Linked DNA regions of Homo sapiens. The protein of the gene in region 1 interacts with the protein of each later gene in a biochemical or structural test. Each region holds a gene or a part of one and is shown in the gene's direction. Other genes may lie near its edges.

The links.
Region 2: the proteins of GP6 (region 1) and LYN form a complex in vitro, tested with the Homo sapiens proteins (one study listed by BioGRID).

The regions. Positions count from the first base shown.
Region 1 is NC_000019.10:55,023,825-55,029,010, reverse strand, and holds part of GP6 (platelet glycoprotein VI isoform 2 precursor), read left to right. Parts: intron 1-1,148; coding exon 1,149-1,433; intron 1,434-3,739; coding exon 3,740-3,793; intron 3,794-5,186.
Region 2 is NC_000008.11:55,944,918-55,950,103, forward strand, and holds part of LYN (tyrosine-protein kinase Lyn), read left to right. Parts: intron 1-1,530; coding exon 1,531-1,576; intron 1,577-2,700; coding exon 2,701-2,806; intron 2,807-5,186. UniProt on the Homo sapiens protein: Non-receptor tyrosine-protein kinase that transmits signals from cell surface receptors and plays an important role in the regulation of innate and adaptive immune responses, hematopoiesis, responses to growth factors and cytokines, integrin signaling, but also responses to DNA damage and genotoxic agents.

The DNA.
Region 1 (5,186 bases):
CTCTCTGTCTTTTTTTGAGACAAGGTCTCACTCTGTCACCCAGGCTAGTGTACAGTGATCATAGCTCACTGCAGCCTCGCCTTCCTGGGCTCAAGCGATCCTCCCACCTTGGCCTCCCAAAGTGCTGGGATGACCGGTGTGAGCCGCCGCACCCAGCCTCAACCTTTGTTTTTCTGACTCCTGTGTGCAGGCATGCATCACCACACCGGTCTATGACAACAACCTCACATCAGAGTAGTGTAGGTTCGTGTTTAGGAGCGGAGACCCTGGAATCAAACTCTGTGAGTGCAGATTTCAACTCTGCCACTTATGATCTTGGACAAGTTTTTTATTTATTTTTAAATTAAAATATGTCCAGCTTTGTTGAGGTATAATTGAAAAACAAAAATGGAATATATCCAAGGTGTACAAGTTGATGTTTTGATATACGAATCCACTGTGAGACAGTTACTACTAGCAAGCTAATTAACATACATCACCTGACACAGTTAACTTTTTTGTGTGTGAGAATACTTATAATCTACCCTCTTAGCAAATTTCAGCTGTACACTGCAGTATTGTTACCTAGAGTTGGACAAATTATTTAATGCCATGTGCCTTAGTTTCATTTATAAAATAGGGACATTAAGAGTGAGGACTCCATAGGTCTCTGAGGATTCACTGAACTGATATACATCATAAGTTTGGAAGGCACCCGGAAGCTAGCACTGTCAGCCACATTTACAACGTAACAATTGTATGTGGCAATACAAGCTTACAGCACAGTATAAGCTTAAGCTATTTACTTACTCCAGCGCTTGCTAGGCAACAGGCACTCTGCAAATTACTGTGTACTGTCTCATTCAGTCATCCCCATTTTAACAGAACAAGGCAGTGAGGCTCAGATACAGAGGGAGATTTGTCTCCAGGGCCACCAGGCCCCTGAAGGCAGAACTAGGATTTGCACCCAAGCACTAGGACGTGAGCACAGCCTCCTTCCTCAACCACTGGGTGACTCGACCTCTCTGTGAGCTTGGGTGGGGGAGTGCGCTCTCTGGGAGGGATACAGCCAAAAAGCTCCCCAGCTCTTAGGCAGGTGTGGGGACCTCCCCAGTCTCAGCTGAGATGCTGGCTCCTGCCTTCAACATCAGACTTTCTTTTTCTCCCAGGAGTTTTTGCCAAACCCTCGCTCTCAGCCCAGCCCGGCCCGGCGGTGTCGTCAGGAGGGGACGTAACCCTACAGTGTCAGACTCGGTATGGCTTTGACCAATTTGCTCTGTACAAGGAAGGGGACCCTGCGCCCTACAAGAATCCCGAGAGATGGTACAGGGCTAGTTTTCCCATCATCACGGTGACCGCCGCCCACAGCGGAACCTACCGATGCTACAGCTTCTCCAGCAGGGACCCATACCTGTGGTCAGCCCCCAGCGACCCCCTGGAGCTTGTGGTCACAGGTAGGGGTAGTGCAGACCAAACCTTTCTTCCTCAGCCTTTATAGGTCCTGATGGCCATTCCAAGGGAGGGGCCATAAGTGGGAAGGAAGTGGGAGGGCAGGAAGCCCTGGGCTGCAGGGGCGGGGCCGTAGGTGGGAAGGAAGTGGGAGGGCAGGAAGCCCTGGGCTGCAGGGGCGGGGCCGTAGGTGGGAAGGAAGTGGGAGGGCAGGAAGCCCTGGGCTGTAGGGGCGCGGCCATAGGTGGGAAAGAAGTGGGAGGGCAGGAAGCCCTGGGCTGCAGGGGCGGCGCCAGAGGTGGGAAGGAAGTGGGAGGGCAGGAAGCCCTGGGCTGCAGGGGCGGGGCCGTAGGTGGGAAGGAAGTGGGAGGGCAGGAAGCCCTGGGCTGCAGGGGCGGGGCCGTAGGTGGGAAGGAAGTGGGAGGGCAGGAAGCCCTGGGCTGCAGGGGCGGGGCCGTAGGTGGGAAGGAAGTGGGAGGGCAGGAAGCCCTGGGCTGCAGGGGCGGGGCCGTAGGTGGGAAGGAAGTGGGAGGGCAGGAAGCCCTGGGCTGCAGGGGCGGGGCCGTAGGTGGGAAGGAAGTGGGAGGGCAGGAAGCCCTGGGCTGCAGGGGCGGGGCCAGAGGTGGGAAGGAAGTGGGAGGGCAGGAAGCCCTGGGCTACAGGCAGCTGGGAGAATGGAGGTTTCTTTTTTTTTTTTTTGACGAAGTCTCACTCTGTCACCCAGGCTGGAGTGCAGTGGCGCGATCTCAGCTCACTGCAACCTCCGCCTTCCGGGTTCAAGCGATTCTGCTGCCTCAGCCTCTCGAGTAGCTGGAATTACAGGTGCCTGCCACCATGCCCGGCCAATTTTTGTATTTTTAGTAGAGACGGGGTTTCACTATGTTGGTCAGGCTGGTCTTGAACTGACCTCATGATCTGCCCGCCTCGGCCTCCCAAAGTGCTGGGATTACAGGCGTGAGCCACCGCGTCGGACTTGACTACCATTCTTAAAGGGGGTTTCTTTCAAAAAAGAGCAGCATACCTCATAATGTGGTTATATACATGCAATGGAATATTATGCAGCCTTAAAAAAGAAGGAAATTCTGACACATACTACAACATGGATATACCTTGAGGACATTATGCTAAGTCAGTCACAAAAGGACAACTACTGTATGATTCTAGTCAAAGGAGGTATCTAATGTCAACACTGTAGAAACACAAAGTACAATGGTGGTTGTTAAGGGCCAGAAAGAGGAGAGAGAAGGAATTAGTGTTTAATGGGCACAGAATTTCAGTTTTGCAAGAAAAATAAGTTCTAGAGGTCAACATATTGTACCACAATGTGAACATACCCAACGCCACTGATCAGTACATTTAACAATGTCATATTAAATCAAACAAAATACATCATTTAGTTTTTGGTAGAAAAATCTGTTTTGCCCCCAGGGTCACAGTGAGGGGTAGGACACAGGAATCCAGAAGAAATAGAACTGAGGTTGAAAAAGGTGGACGGGAGCTGCATGCATTTCCTTGTTAATAGCCCAGAATGTGCCAGGTGTGCTTTACAAATGCTGCTGCTTTTTTTTTTTTTTTTTTTTTTGGGGGGAGTCTCACTTTGTCACCCAGGCTGGAGTGCAGTGGAGTGATCTCAGTTCACTGCAACCTCCACCTCCTGGGTTTAAGCGATTCTCCTGCCTCAGCCTCCTGAGTAGATGGGATTACAGGCACCTGCCATCATGCCCAGCTAATTTTTGTATTTTTCGTAGAGACAGGGTTTCACCATGTTGGCCAGGCTGGTCTTGAACTCTTGACCTCAGGTGATCTGCCTGCCTCGGCCTCTCAAAGTGCTGGGATTACAGGTGTGAGCCACCACGCCTGGCTAAGCCTTTTTTTTTCAGATGGAGTCTTACTGCGTCACCCAGGCTGGAGTGCAGTGGTGCGATCTCAGATCACTGCAACCTCTGCCTCCTAGGTTCAAGTGATTCTCCTGCCTCAGCCTCCCGAGCAGCTGGGATTACAGGTGCACACCACCACGCCTGGCTAATTTTTGTATTTTTAGTGGAGACGGGGTTTCACCATACTGGCCAGGCTGGGCTTGAACTCCTGACCTCAAGTGATCTGCCCTCCTCAGCCTCCCAAAGTGCTGGGATTACAGGCATGAGGCACTGCACCCAGCTCAAATGCTTATTAACATCCACAACAGTCCAGTGATGTAAGCTACTTTAGGCTCATTTTTCCGGTGAGGAAACTCAGTCACGGAGATGTTTCGTTATTTGTTCAGGACCCACAGCGACAGAGCACAGATTTATCTCATTTTCTGATTTCCCAGGAACCTCTGTGACCCCCAGCCGGTTACCAACAGAACCACCTTCCCCGGTAGCAGGTAGGTTCTGCAGGGTCCATTCTGGTGCACAGCGTATGAGGTACACGGACCCCTTCTCTCTCTCCTCTCTGCCTAGACTTCTCGATTTAATTCAGTTGGTTCTTTCACAGATTTGCTTTGTTTTAAAAATCCTTTATTTCTGCCTGTAAACAGGGTGGGTGTCCTAAGTAGTTAGATGTTAAGATGCTGCCCCCAATCCTACTCTAGGTGGATGGTTTATCACATATAACATGCAGAAGAATAATCGGAGTGGCTTGCTATACTGTGGAGTCCAGCTGGTTGAATATGGGTGACAAAAACAAACAAACTAACCAACCAACCAACCAACCAACCAACCAACAAACCTGTAGAGTCCGGGACTCTGTTTCTGAGTCACTGAATGCATTGATCAGCGGTTCTCAAACTTCCATGAGCATAAGAATCACCTGGAGGCTTAAAGAATAGATTTCTGAGCCCCCAGGGCTTCTGCTTCAGTAGGTCTGGGGTGAATCCAGTCATTTTCATTCCTAGTAAGTTCCCAGGTGATGCTGATGCTATGGCTCCAGAATGCTGCTTTGAGAACCACTGCGGTAAGTTTTGTGTGAGGCGTGTTATCCCCTCCACTTTCACAAACATCTCAGCTGAATACGGTGTACCAGACTACGGCCTGCACTTTAAGAATATCATACGCTAGGCTGGAGGCTGGGCGTGTCTAACATTCCCTGTGTCTCAGAGTGAAGCACCAAGGCAGGAGAAACATGCTGGAAAGAGCCGAGGTTGATAAGGATGAGATTTGCGGGGTTGAGGGCAGAGTGAGGGCTATTATGCCTAGTGGGCAGGGACATGGAAGATGGTCACATACTGTGTGCGTGCATATGTGTGTGTGCGTGCATGTGCGTGTGTGCGTGCATATGTGTGTGTGCGTGCATATGTGTGTGCATGCGTGCATATGTGTGTGTGTGCATGCGTGCATATGTGTGCGTGTGCTTCTGACTGAATTTTTGAACTTTCTCTTTTGAAATGGTTCTAGAGTCACAGGAAGTCTACAATGATAGAACAGAAGAATCCCATGTGCTCTTTTTCCAGTTTCCTCTAATGGTTACATCTTACGTAATTAGAGTACAACATAAAAACCAGGAATTTGACATTGGCATAAAGTAGGTGTCTAGTTCTATGCCAATTTGTCACAGTTGTAGATTCGCGTCACCATCACCGCAGTCACTGTACAGAACTCTTCCGTCTCACAAGGGCCTCCCTTGGGCTACCCTTTTATATTCACACCTACACCCTTCTCCTTCCCTTGCCATCCCTAACTCCTGGTATCCATTAATTTGTTCTCCATCTCTATAATCTTCCATTTCTAGAATCTGATGTAAATGGGATCATCCAGTATGCAACCGTTTGAGATATCCTT
Region 2 (5,186 bases), on another chromosome or scaffold:
AGTAAACACGCTTGAAGTCTTTCAATTCCCTCCTGTATACCATTTTTTGCCCCTTCTGTGGTCACAGATGCCCTCCACTCATGAGCCAGTTAGCCTGGCCTTATTCCATGGCCATAACCAACACTCTCAGCCCTGGCCAGATATGACAAAATGCACGCTATGGATTGATTAAAAGGGGAATTTGATGAGAAGGTGAGGTAGGGTTGATGCAAATTCAACAACATTCTAGAAAAAGCCATTTTAAGGAAAAATCTAGAGCAATAGTATATGTGTGGCATACATGTGTTTCGGTCTTATAAAAAGCATATTAAAATGTTTGTAAGTTAAGGGCTTTTTGAAATTTGAAAAATCAGCTTGCTGCTTTTAAAATGATGTAATTAGTTTCTAGTCTTCTAGTTATTTCCTCTAAATCACATAAAATAGATCATATATCCAAATTATGCAAATCTGAATGACTAAAAAATCAACATAAAACTTCCTGACATAAACATTTGAAGGATAGTATGCAGCCATGGGTTTTTCTGGTACTACAATGTAGTAATTTTCCCTGTCTCACTGAAATGGAGATTTTATGGGCTTTCATCAGAAATTTAAATTTCAGTACAAACTGTTTTGGTCCCATTCTGTGAAGCCACTTTAATCAAAGAGAGACAGAAAAGTTACATGACTTGTGGTATAGGCCTCTGACAGCATCTATCTTACAAGAGGCCCAGAGGCCTCACACAGCCTCATGTGGCACTGTGAAGAAAAGAATTTGATTTTAAAGGTAATTGAGGTGGTCTTCTGTGCCACCAAATCCTTCCCAATAACTCACCCCCCCACTGAAATAACAGGGGATGCCATCTGTCCCTGTGATGGAGTCAGGGTCAGCCCAAGAAAACCTGGATGGGATGGGACTTGCTCTCAGCCTCCAGGGACAGAGCCCTGACCATGCAATTTTATACAATTGGGGAAGCCTCAGATGGGCAGTCCCAGGCTGGGACGGCAACTCCACGAAATCACCAGGGTCCCACCTCTTCCGTCTCCATCCTGCTGCCGCTGGTGTTTGCTTTCTATGTGAAGACTCCAGCCTTCACTTGTTTCTAGGGAGAGAGAAAGAGGCAAGGGAAAAGGGGAGCTGACAGCAAAGCCCTGCACAACCGATCTGCGGACCAAAACTCCCTCTGCCCTCTGCCCGGGGCTAGAGAGTTTGGAAGCACACTCATTGAGCTGGGCAAACTGCCACCCCAAATAATATTAGGGCTCTGTCACCAAAGAAGAGGAGGAGCTAGGATGAGGTGAGCACCTGGCACCTGCCCAGAACCTCGCTCCCTTCCTGCCACCCACAGCAAGTGATAAAGAGCCCTGTCACTGGCCAAGCAGGGCAGGATGCACCTCTACAGGTTTTTCCCTCTGTGCTCCTGTTCTTTCTGACTTAATAAATGAGCCCATCCTAACATCTGCTACTGTTACAAAAATCATATATACAACACGAATGTGAGTAAGAAAAGCTAAACAGAATTTTTTTTTCTAACAAATATTCTCTCGTAGGTTCCAGAATCTCAGCTTTTACCTGGACAGAGGTTTCAAACTAAAGGTATGTTTTCATAGCAACATAGTTAAAATTTTTTTTCTTTACTATTAGAGCTTCTATAAAGTGATTGTCCTAAATGTTTTTATTTTTTTTTATTGTGGGACATATATAACATAAAAATTTACCCTCTTAACTATTTTTAAGTATACATTTCAGCAGCATTAGGTACATTCACATTGTTGTACAACCAATACCGCCCTCCATCTCCAGAATGCATCTTCTCAAACTCCATACCCATTAAACAATAAGTCCCCATTGCCTCCTCCCCCAGCCGCTGGCAACCTCCGCTCTTTCTGTCTTTATGAATTTCACTACTCTAGGTACCTCCTAGAAGTGGAATCATACAGTAATTGTCCTTTTGTGTTTGGATTATTTCACTTAGCCTGATGTCCTCAAGGTTCATCCATGCTGTAGAAAGTGTTAGAATTTATTTCCTTCTAATAGTGAATAATATTTCCTTGTAAGTATATGCCCTGGCCGGGTGCAGTGGCTCACACCTGTAATCCCAGCACTTTGGGAGGCCAAGTTAGGTAGATCACCTGTGGTCAGGAGTTCGAGACCAGCCTGGTCAACATGGTGAAACCCCGTCTCTACTAAAAACACAAAAAATTAGCCAGGCGTGGTGGTGGGCGCCTGTAATCCCAGCTACTGGGGAGGCTGAGGCAGGAGAATAGCTTGAACCCAGGAGGTGGAGGTTGCAGTGAGCCGAGATTGCACTATTGCACTCCAGTCTGGGCGACAAGAGCGAGACTCCGTCTCAAAAGAGAAAAACCAAAATGCTACATGATGTTTATCCATTCCTCCATCAATAGATGTTTGCATTATTTCCACATCTTGGCTATTTTGAATAATCCTGCTGTGAACATGGGTGTATAATTTCTTAAATATAGAGTTGTATTTATAGTTTTAGTTTTAAGTGATTTGCAAGAACAAATACTGGACACAGTGTATACAGCAAGGTACTCTCTGTGGGCCGTGCAGACCCTGAGCCCACTAGGCAGGAAGCACATGTCCTTCTTCCAGTTGCCCCCTCTTAGTGCTTCCTCTCATCCTTTGTGCCCCATGAGGTTTGTTAAAACGCTTCTGCTGATGGATTCTTACAGGTGTTCTCTTGTGTTCATCTTTAGATCCAGAGGAACAAGGAGACATTGTGGTAGCCTTGTACCCCTATGATGGCATCCACCCGGACGACTTGTCTTTCAAGAAAGGAGAGAAGATGAAAGTCCTGGAGGAGTAAGTGCTCTCAAGCACGCCACGGCTGCTCGTTTCCTCAGGCCACTGAGTCCTGCAGGCTGTCCCCTTGTCTTGCTTCTGGTGCTACAGCCATAGCCCGGCCCCTTTCTTGTAATGGGTATGAGGCCTCCTTGCTACCCACAGGGAGTGGGCAGTGGAAGGAATAGAGCCAAAGGGATTTTCCTTTTAAGTCGGTCTGTGAGCACACTTCAGGGGGTTTCCCTTTGAAGACAGACAGTGGTTTTTCTTTAAAACAATTTTTTTTTTTGAGATGGGATCTCTCTCTGTCATCCAGGCTAGAATGCAGTGGCATGATCATAGCTCACTGCAGCCTTGAACTCCTAGGCTAAAGCAATCCTCTCACCTCAGCCTCCTGAGAAGCTAGGACTACAGGCATGTGCCACCAGGCCTGGCTAATTTTTAAAATTTTTGTAGAGATGGGATCTTGTTATGTTGCCCAGGCTGGTCTTGAACTCCTGCTGTCAAGCAATTCTCCTGCCTTGGCCTCCCAAAGTGCTGGGATTACAGGTGTGAGCCACCACACCCAGCCTGGTTTCTTTCTTTATCCACTCTTGCCACCTTAAGAAATTTGGGTCTGTGTGGCCCATGCATGATACTTGAAATGTCACTTTTCTTTTGTTATATTACTCATGTTTAGACTGGGTTCATGGGCCCAGCCTAGCTTGAGTTCTAAGGGTACTGAGCTACAGCAGCTGTGTTGGGAAATTCTCAACTCAGCAGCTGCCATGCTTTTGTGAGGACGCCTGAGTGTCGTCATCTCCTCAACCCCCTCTTGCTGACTCAGACATGTGGCAGTGTCAGACCATAGGCATGCAGGACAGTGCTCAGAATAAGAAACTCCAGTTGCTTTAATTCTAGCTTGCTTTTCTTACTAATCTTGCATTAAATGTCACTGTGACCTGCCAAATAGGGTTTGAGGGGGAGACTCCCTTATTAAGGACAAGGTGTTCCGTGGTTGAGAGCAATGTTGCATATGGGTTGAACAGGGACTTAAGCCTGATCCTGGCCCTGCCACTTGATAGCTGTATGACCTTGACAAGACCCTTAAACTTTATACCTTGGTTTCTTTACTTATAAAATGGGAATGACAGTACCTAGATCATGGGGTTGATGTGAGCATGATGCATGTGTTTAAACATGACATAAGCAAAGAGGATGCAGAGCTTAGTATTAGTTCTAGTTGCCTTCATGCCTTACAGACAAGGATCCTGTCTGTGTGTGGAATTTATAGAGGAATGCAGTTAAGGCTCAAAGGGACCCATTCCTTCCCCCATTACCAGCTTACCTGCTTGCTTCTTCCAGTGCTCATCCCTGCCTCCTCCCTGGCTCCATGCCTGCCTTTCTGCTGAGGACTCGAGCATGGTGCTGAAGCTCACTTGCTTGGAATTGTCTTATGGTTTTCTTCTTTTCATAGTGTCCATCTCTATGATAACTAGATGTTTGAACAAAGGAGTTTATAATGCATGAACTGTGGACCAGTATTCCCTTGACTCTCATTTCTATAAGGATTTGAAAGCATTTCTTAGCTATCCTGGGGCAAGTTACAAACCTTTTGTTTCTGTGAGATGGGAGCCATTTGTACCAACTCTTCTTTGTGCACCCCTGATCGCAGTGATGCGTGCTTTAGTTGTAAGGCTGTTTTCCTTTGCTTCTGTCTCTAAACATATTTTAATTCCATCACGGAGAGTGAATTTTCCCACTGGATTCTGGGGTTCCAGAGATGTTCTCCACCCGCCTTCACCATCCTAAACAAACATCTTGAGACAATTGCTATTGTAGCTGTTGAGTCTTGGATATAAACACTTTTTTCCTTTTATTTTTAGTTGACATGGAATAATTATATGCAGTCATGGGATACAGAGCGATATTTTGATACATGTATGCAGTGTGTACGGATCAAGTCAGCGTAATTAGCATATCCATCATCTGGAACATTTATTCTTTCTTTGTGTTGTGAACATTCAAAACCCTCACTCCTGGCTTCTTTTCTTTGTCTCTCTCTCTCTCTTTTTAATAGCTTTATTGAGAATTCACAATACCATACAATCCATCTACTTAAAGTGTACAATTCAGTGATTTTTTTAGTATAGTCACAGAATTGTGCAATCATCACCACAATCCATTTTAGAACATTTTAAATACCCCAAAAGGAAACCCTGCACCCCTTAGCTGTCACCTCAACTCTCCCATTCTCTGCAGCCCTAGGAAACCACGAATCTACTTTTTATCTCTGAAGACTGACCTATTCTGGATATTTCACATAAATGGAATCATACAATATGTGGTCCTTTTTGACTGCCTTCTTTTATTTAGCATAATGTTTTCAAAGTTCATCCCTGTTGTAGCATCTCTCAGCACT